Homo sapiens: one gene and its partner. The protein of the gene in region 2 interacts with the protein of the main gene of each other region in a pairwise test. Each region holds a gene or a part of one and is shown on either strand. Other genes may lie near its edges.

What was found. The genes of interacting proteins can lie anywhere in the genome.
Region 1: the proteins of STAT5A (region 2) and HELZ interact in a two-hybrid assay, tested with the Homo sapiens proteins (one large-scale study listed by BioGRID).

The regions. Positions count from the first base shown.
Region 1 is NC_000017.11:67,238,697-67,242,196, reverse strand, and holds part of HELZ (probable helicase with zinc finger domain), read left to right. Parts: intron 1-2,707; 5' UTR 2,708-2,764; intron 2,765-3,500. UniProt on the Homo sapiens protein: May act as a helicase that plays a role in RNA metabolism in multiple tissues and organs within the developing embryo.
Region 2 is NC_000017.11:42,298,498-42,301,997, reverse strand, and holds part of STAT5A (signal transducer and activator of transcription 5A), read right to left. Parts: intron 2,248-3,500; coding exon 2,117-2,247; intron 1,869-2,116; coding exon 1,717-1,868; intron 1,284-1,716; coding exon 1,128-1,283; intron 724-1,127; coding exon 544-723; intron 1-543. UniProt on the Homo sapiens protein: Carries out a dual function: signal transduction and activation of transcription. Mediates cellular responses to the cytokine KITLG/SCF and other growth factors. Mediates cellular responses to ERBB4.

The sequences.
Region 1 (3,500 bases), about 25 Mb from region 2:
TGATCTGCCCGCCTTGGCCTCCCAAAGTGCTGGGATTACAAGCGTGAGCCACCATGCCTGGCCTTATCTTTTTTCTTGAAGCCTACAGATAATTTTGTGGAAAGGAGCCAGTGGTCTGCTTTTTGACTGTGGAGATGTTTGTTTGTAGTCTAAAATGGAATACTTAGAAGTAGGTAATCTTGTGTGGCTAGTGTTGTTTGACCTGAATTGTGTCAAGACATTTTCCACAGTTCTCACACATGTAGACTCTGTGAAGTGTTAGTATTCATTTCAAAGCGAAGTTAGTGGTTGGCCACTGAACAACTTGTTACACAAAGTATTCTAAAATGGGAAATGCCATAGTATTGAAGGTTGTGGTGAGGTAGAAGTCTGTGTCTCTGAGCTGAATAAAGACAGAGCTTTTTTAGTCTGTCCTTTTGGCTGGGAAGCTAGGACACTATTTTTAGGTAAGGCTGTAGTTTTTGGGAGTAAGTACCTTTCTATTAGCTGGTAAACTTGATTATTGCATTTGTTAACAAGAAGTTTTATTTTCTAATGCCATAGATATTAAAATGCATTGTCTTAAAGTTGGTATATATTTATAGACTGTCCAGTTTTCACTGGAAGAGGAGTGATGCCAAAACAACAGGAAAAGTCATTTTTACTTGCAAAGGGCCTCGTGTAATTAAAAAATCTACAGCATATTCATGAAAGGCTAAGAATAGTGCAGAGGGACCTACAAGTAAGTAGCCCAGATCTTACAGATGCATGTGTTCTCTATTTAAGCAGTAGGCTTGGCATTAATATTGAATGTAGATTAGTCTATAATTGTCTGTCAGAGACCCTAAGATCCAAATACAGGCCCCATACAAGAAATAAGGACCTTTGCCTGTTGTTTCAAATGTATAGAAGATTTCGGGCCAGGTGTATCAACAACAGTTATCCAAGAGATGGGGAGGAACTACTTAAAAAATTATAAGCAAATTTTTAGGTTTAATTTTCATAAACTTAGGTGAATATACATGCAGATGTAATTGGATTTCTAAGTAATGTTTTGAAATGTTTTCTAGAAGAAAAGTGATACAAGTGGAGAGTATGCCATACTATCTTACCATTCATTTCAGTTGATGAGTGCAGTCAGGGTTACTTCTGTAGCATTGGCTAGAAGCAGCATATAACATGATGGTTTATTGCTTTGAGGGTGGCTGGGATAATAGTTTTCAGTAATCTTGAATCTGTTAGAAGTGAATATTCCTCTTTTTAAAAGACCACTGTAGATGTAACAGGAAGAATTTTATTTATATATACATGTAATAACTATTTTGGTCAACTTTTAATTATTCAAAAGAAATGGAAAGTTTTTCAACTAATACCAACAGTCATACCAACTTGTTTACTTTTGTGAATTGTACTGGGTCAGTTTCTCCAAGTAAGAGCAGGAAGTTGTTTGGTAAAGCAGAGTGTATACATATATCTTGTCTTTGAACAAAAAAGAACTTGATTCATCGTCAGGTTCTTCAAAGAATGCATGGCATCTTTGTTGACTGAACTATTCTGAAGTGTGAATGTTTGTGATTTTTGTCATTTCTGTGCTATATTTTAGGTGTTCTTGTCACATCTGAATTTGCCTTTTTGCTTCCTTCTGCAGAAATTATCTTTGTTGTGATGAAAATGTCCTATAATGCGAGCTTCCTGTCAGTAGGCAACGTGTTTAACTAATACAGTTTTAAAAAATTATTTACTTTTATGCAAAACTCCTGTATGCTTATGGTAAACAAATTTGAGCAGTACTTATGTAAAGTAAAAAAGGTTAAAAAAAAGAAAAGCCTCTGTTCTTCTTCTGTCTCTAGTCCTGCTCCCTTGAGCTGAATCTGGCAAACAGCTGGGTGTCATTTAGCTTTTGGAAGACCTCTCTATTCCTGAGATATTCTGGCAGTGTGGAAGTAGAGTGAGAAGTCAGAAAAGGCATGGTCATTGAACCAGAGTTTGGATGTTGTGCAGGGACTATTCTGTTCTTATTTTCTGTGATAAGTAATAATGATAAACTACCATCAGCTTAAGATAACTGTAATTTGAATTGTGAAACATGAAAACAGTTAGTTCTTTAGTCAGGTTGGTAAAGTTTTGATTTGTTGATCTTTTAAAAGAAATATGCATGAATTGAATTCATGTAATGTTAGGGCTGGTGGGGGTTAATGGTAGTAATGAATTACCATCTGTTGAATTTTAGGATAAGCTGCACAGTATATTTACTATAGGCTTTTTATAACTCATCATCTCCTTTAATTCTCATAGCAACTCACGAGATAGTTATTTCCATTTTACAAAGGAAGAAATTCAGGCTTAAGTGTGACTCAACTAATGTAACGTCACGAGACCAGTAAAGTAGTGGAGCTGGTGTTCTTCCTGGAAAGCCTGTGCTCTTCTTTCTCTAGCTAGTCTAAGTGACTTATTTTCCAGATAAGGAAATATAGGCCTGAAGAAATTAAATGAGTTGCTCAAGGTCACACAGCTCAGTAGTAGCAACATTAAACCAAGCTTGTTTTTAATCTTTGGAGGCTTATCTCAAGACTCTTGGTCTAGTGCTGGTCATGCTACATTTTATTGAACTAGTGTGGACCAAAAGACCATATGCTGGGAATATTGGATACAAATGCTTTGGAACTGATATCTTGGTGAATGGTGTTTTCTACTATGTATTAAAAAAACTTTCTTCTTTGTCTTTCAGAAATTATAAAGAGCTCTGATGGGCTATTTGGGTGATACCCAGTGCAGTGAACTGCAGGTGAGTAAGGTTTAGAACTTTATTTAGAAAACAAGAATTTTATAATGCCTGAAAGAATAAGGTGGGACAAGGGTGAAGTGATACAGGGCTGTAGTGAAACAGTGGTAACCTGAAGGCACAGATCCTAACGGAATCGGTTACTTCTGGAACAGACTGAATGATGAACAAGCTCCGAAGAGACTGCCTGCTGCCTTGTCAGGTTAGTGTGTGAAATGAGTGAGGGTAGGTTAATCTTCCACTTCTGTTCAGATGAGTAACTGCATAGGGGCTCAGCTTATCTGCGTGCTATTGGAACTTGAGAGGTCCTTCAGTTTTTGTGTCAGCATTCTTGAGTGGCGATTACTTTGTGCTCCAGTGAACTTGGTTAAGTATTGAATTGTTTTTCCTGTTATCTGCTATTTACATAGTGTCATGAATGACTGTATATATCTGCAGTTTTGAGGATCTAAATATGGAGAACATATCAATAGAAACAAAAGGTTGAACTTTTTTTCCTAGTGGTTGTACTACCTCTATTGATACTATTAGTCTTTCAGATTATTTACTTTTTGCTGAAATACCTGTTAATTAAAAACAGTTTAGTCTTGAGTATTTATTATTTCACAGTAATTAATCTTCTTGGTCAGCTATGGTGTCTTCGTCTTTCATTATTACACTTAGAAAATGGTAATACTACAGAAATAAATTAGAAGGCTTTTAATACTTTCCTTATGAGGCATCAGAGTTAAAATTATTA
Region 2 (3,500 bases):
GCGATGAGGGTCTCCCTATATTGTCCAACTCAAACTTTTGGGCTCAAGTGATCCTCCGACCGTGGCCTCCCAAAGTGCTGGGATTACAGGGGTAAGCCACGGCATCTAGCCTAGCACCAAGCTTGTTGCAGGGACAGGGAAGGCATCTGAGTAGGAGGAAGGCAGTGTACCATCTGTCCCAGATTTAATGATGGTTTGACATGATTGTTTGAATTTACAATGGTGTGAAGCAATACACTTTCAGGAGAAAGTGGTGTGATAGTCTCTCACAATGCTGGGCAGTGGCAGTGAGCCTCAGCTCTCCGGCAGCCACACCATCCCCAGGGTAAAGAACGGATACTCGGCTGGGTGTGGTGGCTCACGCCTATCAACTCAGCACTTTGGGAGGCTGAGGTGGGAAGACTGCATGAGTCCAGGAGTTCGAGACCAGCCTGGGCAACACGGTGAACTAGGGGACAAGACATAGCTGGATGCAAGGACAAAGCGGGGGGTGCAGGTCCCCCACACCTAAGCTTGGGCAGGGGAAGGGAGAGGCACAATTACTTGCGGGTGTTCTCATTTTTAAGCAGAGACTTGGCCTGCTGCTCACTGATGATGGTGGCCTTCACCTGGGGGGGATTCATGTGCACGTTCAGCTTCCCGCCCACCAGCAGGCGTACGGTGGCTGCAAACTTGGTCTGGGTCTTCAGGACCTGAGGAGGCTGCTTCTCAATGATGAATGTGCTGCATGGGACACAGGGACAGACACACGATGAGGGGTTGGCGCAGGGGAAAGGGCTCTCAGTCCCTCTGTGGTGGGGGTGGGGCTGCCTCCCATGGGGCTCAGGAGGTGATGAGCTCGGGCACAACCTCTGTTCCCGGGGAAGCTGTGAGAGTCCAGGGAGAGGATGGAGAGGGGAGTGAGATAACACAGCAGCTGGCATGGGCTGCGGCCCAGGGTATCTCTTGCAGTGTCCACAGGAGAAACTGGGCAAGGGCGGCACCTAGCAGCCACAGCAACTGGAGATGGAGTTGGGAGGGATGAGAGGCAGGAAGTGGATCTGCTGGTCTGGAAGGCACCTGCAGCTCCCCCCACGCAGGCAGGAGCTGCCCCAAGCTCCTGGGCATGGCAAACAGGCAGCAGTCACCTGGTCACCAGGGCTGAGATAATGTCCGTGATGGTGGCGTTGACCTCGGCCAGCATCTCCTCCACTGGGCCGGGGATGGGCAGCTGCTGGCAGAGGTGCTCAGCCCTGCGGATCTGCTGCCGGTTCTGCCAGATGATCTCGGCCAACTTCTCACACCTGCACGAGAGCCCCAAGGCCAACAGGAGGACAATGGCTTCTCCTCACAGACGCCAGGCCCCAAGACACAGCTCCCGTTCCCCCAGGAAGGCTCTGTGCTTTCGCCACACTTCCCACCCATGGGAAGAGCAGAGCTCCCTGCCTCCCAGAATTAGAGACGTACACAGGAGGGGCGACCCTGACTAGGCCCAAACAGCCCAAGCATCACCCCACACACCCGAGCCCCATCCCACCCCCAGGACAGCAGCCCCCTTCCTGGGGGAGGTGCACAGGATGGGGACCAAAGTCTGATTGAGGAACCAGGCTCCCTGGAGAAACAAGAGCTGTCCCAGGATGGAGGGGGCCTGCTGCAGGAGCCAGCACAGGACGCAGAAGCAGCCGGGGTCCCCACCAGCCCCTCCTGCCCTGCCCGCTGGCCGCCCCACACCATTACCAGGACTGTAGCACGTCCAGGCTGCCCTCGGGGGGCCCGCCGTTCCCGGCCAGCTGCTGCCGCCGCTTCCACTGGATCAGCTCGTCATCCAGGATGATGGTCTGCTGCTTCCGCAGCAGCTGCAGGGTCTTCTGGTGCTTCTCGGCCAGCTCCTGAGGGAAGGGAGGAGAGCAGCCCCTTCTGGGCTCCCAGAGAACACCGCAGGGCCTCGCTGGGAAATGGCAGGGCAGGGCCCAGGCCGTTCCCTCTCCCCAAGCTGCTCTGCCTCGCAAGGCCCCCAGGAAAAAAGGCCTCCTGCCCTCCCAGGTTCTGCTCTCATGCTGGTCCCAGCCCTCCCTCGGGTCCCCAGAGACTGACTTCATGGCACCCACGCCCAGGAGAGGCCCAGGACCCCACTCACCACGCGGTACTGCTGCAGTGTCTGTGCCTCACGCTGCAACCAGGCCTCCAGAGACACCTGCTTCTGCTGGAGGGCCGTCTCCCGGCTCAGACGCTCCTGGGGGCTCAGCTGGGCCAGCTGGGCAAACTGAGCTAGAGGAGAGAAGAGGAAACCATGACCATCACCTCCTAGTGTCCAACAGGAGGCCTAGAGAAGCCCACTCACCTGTTCTGGAGCGAGACCCTCCCAGGCTCAGACACTGCATCAAGAGCAAGTCGGGGTTCCTGACAGCCAGGGGGGCCAAGATGAATGGCGCCTCAGGAGGCGCCTCTGGGCCCTGCTCACCAGCCTCCTGACTCTGAGCCGTCCCCTCTGGGGGCACACGGGTGCTGGGGCAGCTGGGGAGGAGGCCTGCCTGCCTCCTGCCCGCCTGCCTCACAGGGCTGCCAGCCCTCTTCTCGCGTCCCAGCATGGGTCCAGGCTGTCTGGGGTGTAAGTGTGCCCATGCCCTTGACTGCAGGTGAACCTGGGCAAATCGCTTTCCTTTCCTGTGCCTCAGCTTCCCCACGTGTAAAACGGGAGATTCTCAGCACCTGCCTCAGTGGGGTGCTTGAAGATTAAATACATGAGGACATGGAAGATGCCAGAAAGCTGCCTGACATGGGTGAGCTCTGTGTGAGGTTCGTGCTTCTTGGTTAACGGGGAACAGGACAGAGAGAAGAGGTGACAGAGACAAGCAGCTGCTCGGCCCCATCCCTCCCGCAGCAAGGCCTCTTCAGGGAACCCCAGCCCCGGCGGCTCTGTCTCGTCCCTGAGCACAGCAGTCCCTCCTCAGGGGAGGATGAGATTCTTGAGGGGCTGGAAGGGGCCCAGCATGTTTGTCCAGGTGGGCTCACTGTGAGCCCAGCCGACCAACCAGGGGAGACAGACAGATAGACAGACCGCAGAGGGAGAGCGTGTCCAGGGCCACTGGGGATGCAGAGCCACCAAGATTCTCTCAGGAAAGGGAGGCCGAAGGGAGGCGGCTTCCCTCCACACCATCTGTGAGGAGTCTCATTGATGGCGGGACAGGGAATAAGTCAGGCCTCACTAGCTTTTAAAAAGTATCCATCATGGGGCTGGGCGCAGTGGCTCACGCCTGTAATCCCAGCACTTTGGGAGACTGAGGCGGGCAGATCACGAGGTCAGGTGATCGAGACCATCCTGGCTAGAGACCATCCTGGCTAACACAGTGAAACCCCATCTCTACTAAAAACACAAAAAATTAGCCGGGCATGGTGGCGGGTGCCTGTAGTTCCAGCTACTAGGGAGGCTGAGGCAGGAGAATGGCGTGAACCCAGAAGGTGGAGCTTGCAGTGAGCCGAGATTGGGCCACTGCACTCCAGCCTGGGCGACAGAGCTAGAC